2 separate regions of the Homo sapiens genome follow, and region 1 is linked to region 2. Evidence: fine-mapped expression QTL. A gene starts in region 2. The other region holds a variant in brackets. All regions are shown on one strand. Distances are from middle to middle. Region 1 has its middle 430 kb from the start of ADGRL2. Region 2 holds the start of ADGRL2 (adhesion G protein-coupled receptor L2).

What was found. PIP is the estimated chance that this variant, and not a neighbour inherited with it, causes the effect.
Region 1: its variant is the best candidate, but not a certain one, in a credible set for the expression of ADGRL2 in pancreas (GTEx, PIP 0.88).

What each region holds. Positions count from the first base shown.
Region 1 is chr1:81,370,967-81,373,881 of GRCh38, forward strand. It overlaps a transcript of ADGRL2 not described here. Among named protein-coding and RNA genes, the nearest start is that of ADGRL2, 430 kb to the right of the region's middle. The variant G/T (reference allele first, on the strand shown) is at 1,228.
Region 2 is chr1:81,799,737-81,802,651 of GRCh38, forward strand. It overlaps ADGRL2 (adhesion G protein-coupled receptor L2), which reads left to right and starts at 1,198. Exons shown (of 24, transcript NM_001366006.2): 1 at 1,198-1,332.

The DNA of each region.
Region 1 (2,915 bases), 430 kb before region 2:
GTCTAGCGTTTAATGGGAATTTTCAGTATGCTAATAAAATGCTTTTAAAAATGTATCTATTTAGGCCATGTGTACCCAAGTGAGGCAGACATTACTGAAAAGGGGAATAAGTTCTCATTTTCTGTAGTTCATTAATAGTGGCTTTCAGTGGAAAATGCAGCAGCATCTTTAGGGCCTCCACCATCCACAGAACCATTACATTAGCCAAGGCTACTAGAACCGACCACCTCACCCTTCTTATGCCTGTTTGAACTTTGAACTATAGCCATAGGAATAAAATCTCAGTGTTCTGTGCAAATTAGGGTAGATATTTCCACCAAGTCTATTTTTAAATACCAAGTAAGGTTGAAATAGCATAAGGCAGAGAAACAAATGGGAGCTGGAAAAAGACAACTAAAAGATGGGGAGTAGGATGATAAGGAAAGAAAAGTATCAATAAAAAAGATGAGTTTGTAGAATGACATCTGGGTTTCCAAAACTAATGTTTCCCACTAAAAATCTTACACGTTTCTATTAATATTGACACTTGTAAATACTTGCTTTTTGTGAATATAAAATAAGAAATGTAAAGCATTTGGCATAGCATAGGACAAGTATTCCATAATTAATCATTTATCTTCCTTGTAAATGAAACTTTGCATTACATACAAGAAGTAACCTGAAATATAGTGTAAAGGTGTAGCCTTAAATCTCTGTGATTGTTTTTATCTTAATTGTTTACTGGGAAATACAGAGGCCATTTTTCAGAAAGTATGCCATGTTTTTGAACAAGAAAAATTATGCACTTCATCATGGGTTATTTGATTCACCCATCGATCCATGTAACCATTCATTCATTATTCAATAAATTCCTATTGAACAAATCATGTCGAGTATTATGATAATTGCTGGGAATATTGAAATAAACAGAAAATCTAGCATGCTTAAATTACAATGAAAGTAACAGATGTGTAAATAAACAAAGAAAAAAGGAATAAGTGCTAAAACACAGGTCTGTTGTAGGTACAGTTGACAGGCAGTCATGTGAGAAGGGTCAGTGTAGGAGGCTTAGAACACTGAGATCTCTGTCCCGAGACCAGTAAGCTATGGCATAAAGATCTTAGATATCACATGTCAAAGCGAAACAAACAACCTATCCATTGTTCATGTGAAATAGGAGGTCATTCTCAAGTCTGCAATGTCGGTAGAACCTTACAAATTCTACATCAATCAACTTTTTTAAAATGG[G/T]AAACTATTACAGTAGTACTTTAATTAATCATCTGAGAATAAAGATAAAGTCAAACCTTGCTGAGAAAAAAGTGAACAAAAGTCTTCATAAATCATTCAAAGAATATTGGTACATTTAGAGCTCAGGAACCCATGTTACTTCTAAGATATAAAAATGTTAAGCAATGCCAAATAATTGCACATTATGTAAGGAGGGCCGAGATGGCAAACACAAGGGGGAAATATCAGTGCAGTCAAGATTGCTGTTCTCATTTGTACCCTCATGCCCCCATTTGCTAGCACCTGTACAACCTGGAAAGCTTATCTGTTGCTGGATCGATTGATTATAATTCAGCATAAGTAAGTTTCACAGTTTTACCTCATCAGATGTTTTTGGCTTCCTTTGCTTATGGCTCTTGATTAATTAATTAGTTGATTAGTTTATTTTCTCTGTTACTCCATCTCATTCCAAAAACATGTTAAAGTACGAATTTTCTGTTTGTTTAATAATTGACTTTGTCATCTGTTAAAATAATGTACATAACTAGGCAGTTAGAGAGAATTTTCCTTTCTGTAATGAAGCTCTTGAAACCAAACTATACCTGTCTACTTATATGTCTGACCCAGGCACACAGATTGATGATGTACTCCCATATTATTTTGCTTAATCACTCCTCTGTTCCCCAGAAGTGTGTTGGCAACAGCTTAGTATAGAACTGTAATTGTTTCTTTACATAAATGTCTTCTTCCAATGGTTCTCACTTTTTAATGTGCATCATCACATTTATTCAAAGGGAGAGAGCTTGTTAAAACAGAGCTTCCAATAGTCTCTGATTCAGTATGTCTTGGTGCAGCCCCAAAATTTTCCCTTTCAACAAGTGCCATGGTCATGCTAATGCTGCTAATTTGGGGGTCACATGCAGAGGACCTCTGTCTCATCCAATATCTGGTAAATATCTAGTTGGTGGCAATTCAGTCTTACCTCTGTACAGAACCTTTTAGAAAGTGTCCAATAAATGTTGATAACATTGAATAAATGACTGAATCATTGTTCCTGCTTTAGTCCTCTAAGATGGAGATAATTAATAACTCCTGATCCCACTTCTCAAAATGTTAGCCTATGAAAAACCCTAAGCAGGATGAGCCTGGGGGCAAAACCATACTTACAGCTGAAAACCTGGACTGGAAATGTCAAACATTTCCATCTTCAATTTTCCCAATGAGTTCCACATATATTCTTTGGAAGATTCAAAAAGGCTTAATAACAGGATGGATTATGAAAACTGAGAATGAGAAGGAACAATTACAAAACTCCTGTGAGTTTATCAAGAACAAACAGAGCCTGACTGGCAGCAGTTTTCCCTTAGTGATGCTACTTACAGGGTTCATCAGGGAAATATAACTAGCATAAAGTATCTAGGACCACAAAACAGCCTCACTTCTCTTGTAAAACATGGAAAAAAATAAGTTCAATGTCTAGAAAATTACATACATTAATAAGGATGAATGAATGAATATACAGAAGTCAGCCTGAAAAACATCTCTAGTGGTGTGGCATAAGTGTGACACTTCATTACTTAACCTTAAATGTTTGTTTTCAACAAGAGTTTGAATGATGACACGGAGGGTGGGCCACCAAAATTGCAGATGATTCAAAACCGGGAAAAAAGCAAGTGATTTAGGAGACATAATCTGAATCTGGCAGTATC
Region 2 (2,915 bases):
TACTTTCTAGGTTTTAAATATTGGAGAATCATTTTTTTCTTGAAAAAAAGGTAAATATGCTTATTTAATTGATGGCTGCATTCATTAGTAGAATCAGTGGTTTACAAATACATCTGAAAACATAGCTGCTTCCAGCTCAGAAATTTTGCAATAAAAAAAAAATCCATGTTTGAATTTTGTGGCATGCACAGGACACTTAACTGGCTTTTAAACGTTTTTCCAGCGTGATTCGCCCTGTCCTGCTCTGTTCCTTTCAGCTTAGGTCCATCGTAGGCTCTGCCTGGCTGTTTGCTGACATTGCCAACCGAGAGGGGCAAGGAAGTGTGTTCAGAGGACAAGAGCAAAGGCAGTTTCAATGTAAGGAAATGAGGGAAACAGACCTAACAGCTCTGTGACTATACTTGAGAGTAAAGAGCCTTGTAGTCTCCTTTCCTTCCTTTGCTTATCCTGGTGAGTTTAATCAAAAACAAACAAAACGCTCTTGTGAAATATAGTCAATAAAGTCAAAGTTTAGCTGGCTCTACGTAACTACAAAGAAAAAAATCATCGCAATTTAAAAAAATGTAACTTTCATTAACGAGCGCGCCGGAAATCTCAGGTATCAAAGACGCATTAACCCTGGAGCGTCCCCCGCGCGCCGCAGCCGGACGGAGGCAGCCGCGGCGAACAGACGTTCTTTCTCCTCCATGCAGTTACACAAAAGGAGGGCTACGGAAACTAAAAGTTTCGGGGCCTCTGGCTCGGTGCGTGGAGAAAAGAGAAAACCTGGAGACGGGGTGGGTGAAAGACGCATCCCGGGCGCCTCTCCGAAGTCCAGGCCGGGAGCAAGCTCCTGGGCCTAGAGGGGAGGGGGCCCCGAGCCGCTGGTCATCCCCCTGCGCTCAGCCTCGGAGCGCCGCGCTTCGCGGCGCTCTCCCAAATACTCTTCACCCACTCCAGAAATAAAATAAATGTTTTTAAAGTGCATGTGTGTGGACAGGATGGAGAGCGCGCGCCGGCGGAGCGCGCGGAGGACCCAGCGCGCAGTGAGTGGAGTTTGGGGGTGGGCTAGGGGTTAGCGGTTGAATGGGTGTGTTAATGGGGGGAGCTGGAGGCAGAGCTCGGGGACCTGGGGGTAGGGGGAGCGCGAACCGACTGGGAGGGGAGAGAAGGGGAGGGGCGCGAGCTGGCGCAGGCCGCCTCCGGGGCGCGTTCCACGGCCGTGCGCGCGCGTCCCTCGCCGCCACCGCCGCCCGGACAGCCCTGCGGCCGCCCCGCCGGCGGAGCCGGGGCCGGCCTGGTCCTCGGGCGGCTGCTTGGCCACCGCCACCGCCGTCCGAAGGGCTCGAGCCCGTAAGTATCCCCTTTCGCTCCTCCTCCCCGCCGCTTGGGCGCACAGCCGCAGCAGCTGCTCAAATGGAGTGGAAAACGGCCATTGGGCGACAATGAGTTATAGATTATCTGCTCCACGTTTTGTACTTAGCTGCCTGTAATCTTCTTTTGAGTTTGCCCGAGCCCCTTGCTGGAAAACTCAGGAGGGAGAGATTTGTCCTTTGACGCTGTACACGCTAGTATGTTTATATGATTAGCCCAACTGGCGGGGAGGGCGGATTTGGGGGAAGGAGGAGGAGGAGGCTGGAGGTGACTCCAGTTCAGACCTCGCGGAGAGTCTGTGTCAGGACTTCGCATTCCCCCGTCTCTCTCTCTCTCCCTCTCGCTCCCTCTCACTCTCTCTCCGCTCACACACACGCAGAGGTGCTGGGGCGAAATCGGGAGCTTACCAGAGAATTCCTTGGGATTGTTGGGGGGCATCTCCCCTCCGCTGCTGTGTGTGGCGTGGCTCTTCCCGGCTACTCCTTGCTTCCCCGAGCCCGAGTCTGCGCCGCCAGCCTTCCTTGGGGCAGCGGCCACCGCTCAGCCCCGGCCGGGAGATCCGAAATGTGAGGAGGGGTCGCCGCCGCCTCCCGCCCCAGGCCGCAGGGTCGGCGCGAGGGATGCTATTCCGGCCGGGCGCTCGGGGGGCTGAGGGGCTTCGCCTGACAAACTGAGTTGGCCTCGCGCCCCCGGCGCCCTCCCGCCCGTCGCTTCGAAGGGACTCCCAAGTCTGCGCACCTCTGTCAGGCTTTTGCTTCCACCACCCCTTTCGCTCTGATTCCCGATTTTTTTTTCCTAAGGGAGCGTGCGGTCTGGGGGTGTGTGCGTGTGTGTGAAAGACCTCTCTCGAAGAGCGGCGTGTGGGAAACTGCGGGAAAATGTTGACTTAACCCCAGGAGCCGCCCGGCGCTGGCTGCTCGGCTGGAGGCGGCGGCGGCCGAGCAGGAGGACGCGCCGAGCTGCGGCGCCGTGTCCGGCCGGGGAGCTGCGGCGCTGCCTCCCGCGCGGACTCGGCGGCCGAGGACCCGCTCGCGGCCGGCCTCGGCCCTCTCCGGCCGGGGTAGCCGCTGCCCTCCGCGCCTGTCCCCGCGCGGCCCCCACGCCAGACGGCCCTCCCTCGGGGCGCGCTCGCAGACGGAGGTAAGAGCCGCAGGAGCGAACAATGTGCCTCTGTGCCCAGCTTCGGAGACCTGTTTGCTTTGCGCCTCCAGTCCGGGGGTGGATGCTGGAGGCGCAGGGAGCCGCGGGTTAATGGGGCTCGGCTGTTGCTGTTCGGCTGGCCCAGGGGGAGACCCGCGCTCGCTCGGGCTGCTCGCTCCCTCCCCCCAATCTCCTCTTGGAAATCGATCCGCAGAACTCTCAGTCCGGTCCAGCCGGCTTCTCCTTTTCTCGTGGAGCCATTGTAACGCTCTCCAGGCATCAGTCTAGTTGCCGGGGGCGCTGGCAAGGGGGTTAGGATGAGGCTCCCGTAGCCATGCATTTTTTAATTTCATAAAAGCTTGGGGTCGCAAGGTTCCGCCCGTCCTTTCACTGGGGGCCTGGGGAGGAGGAGTGTGAAGCGC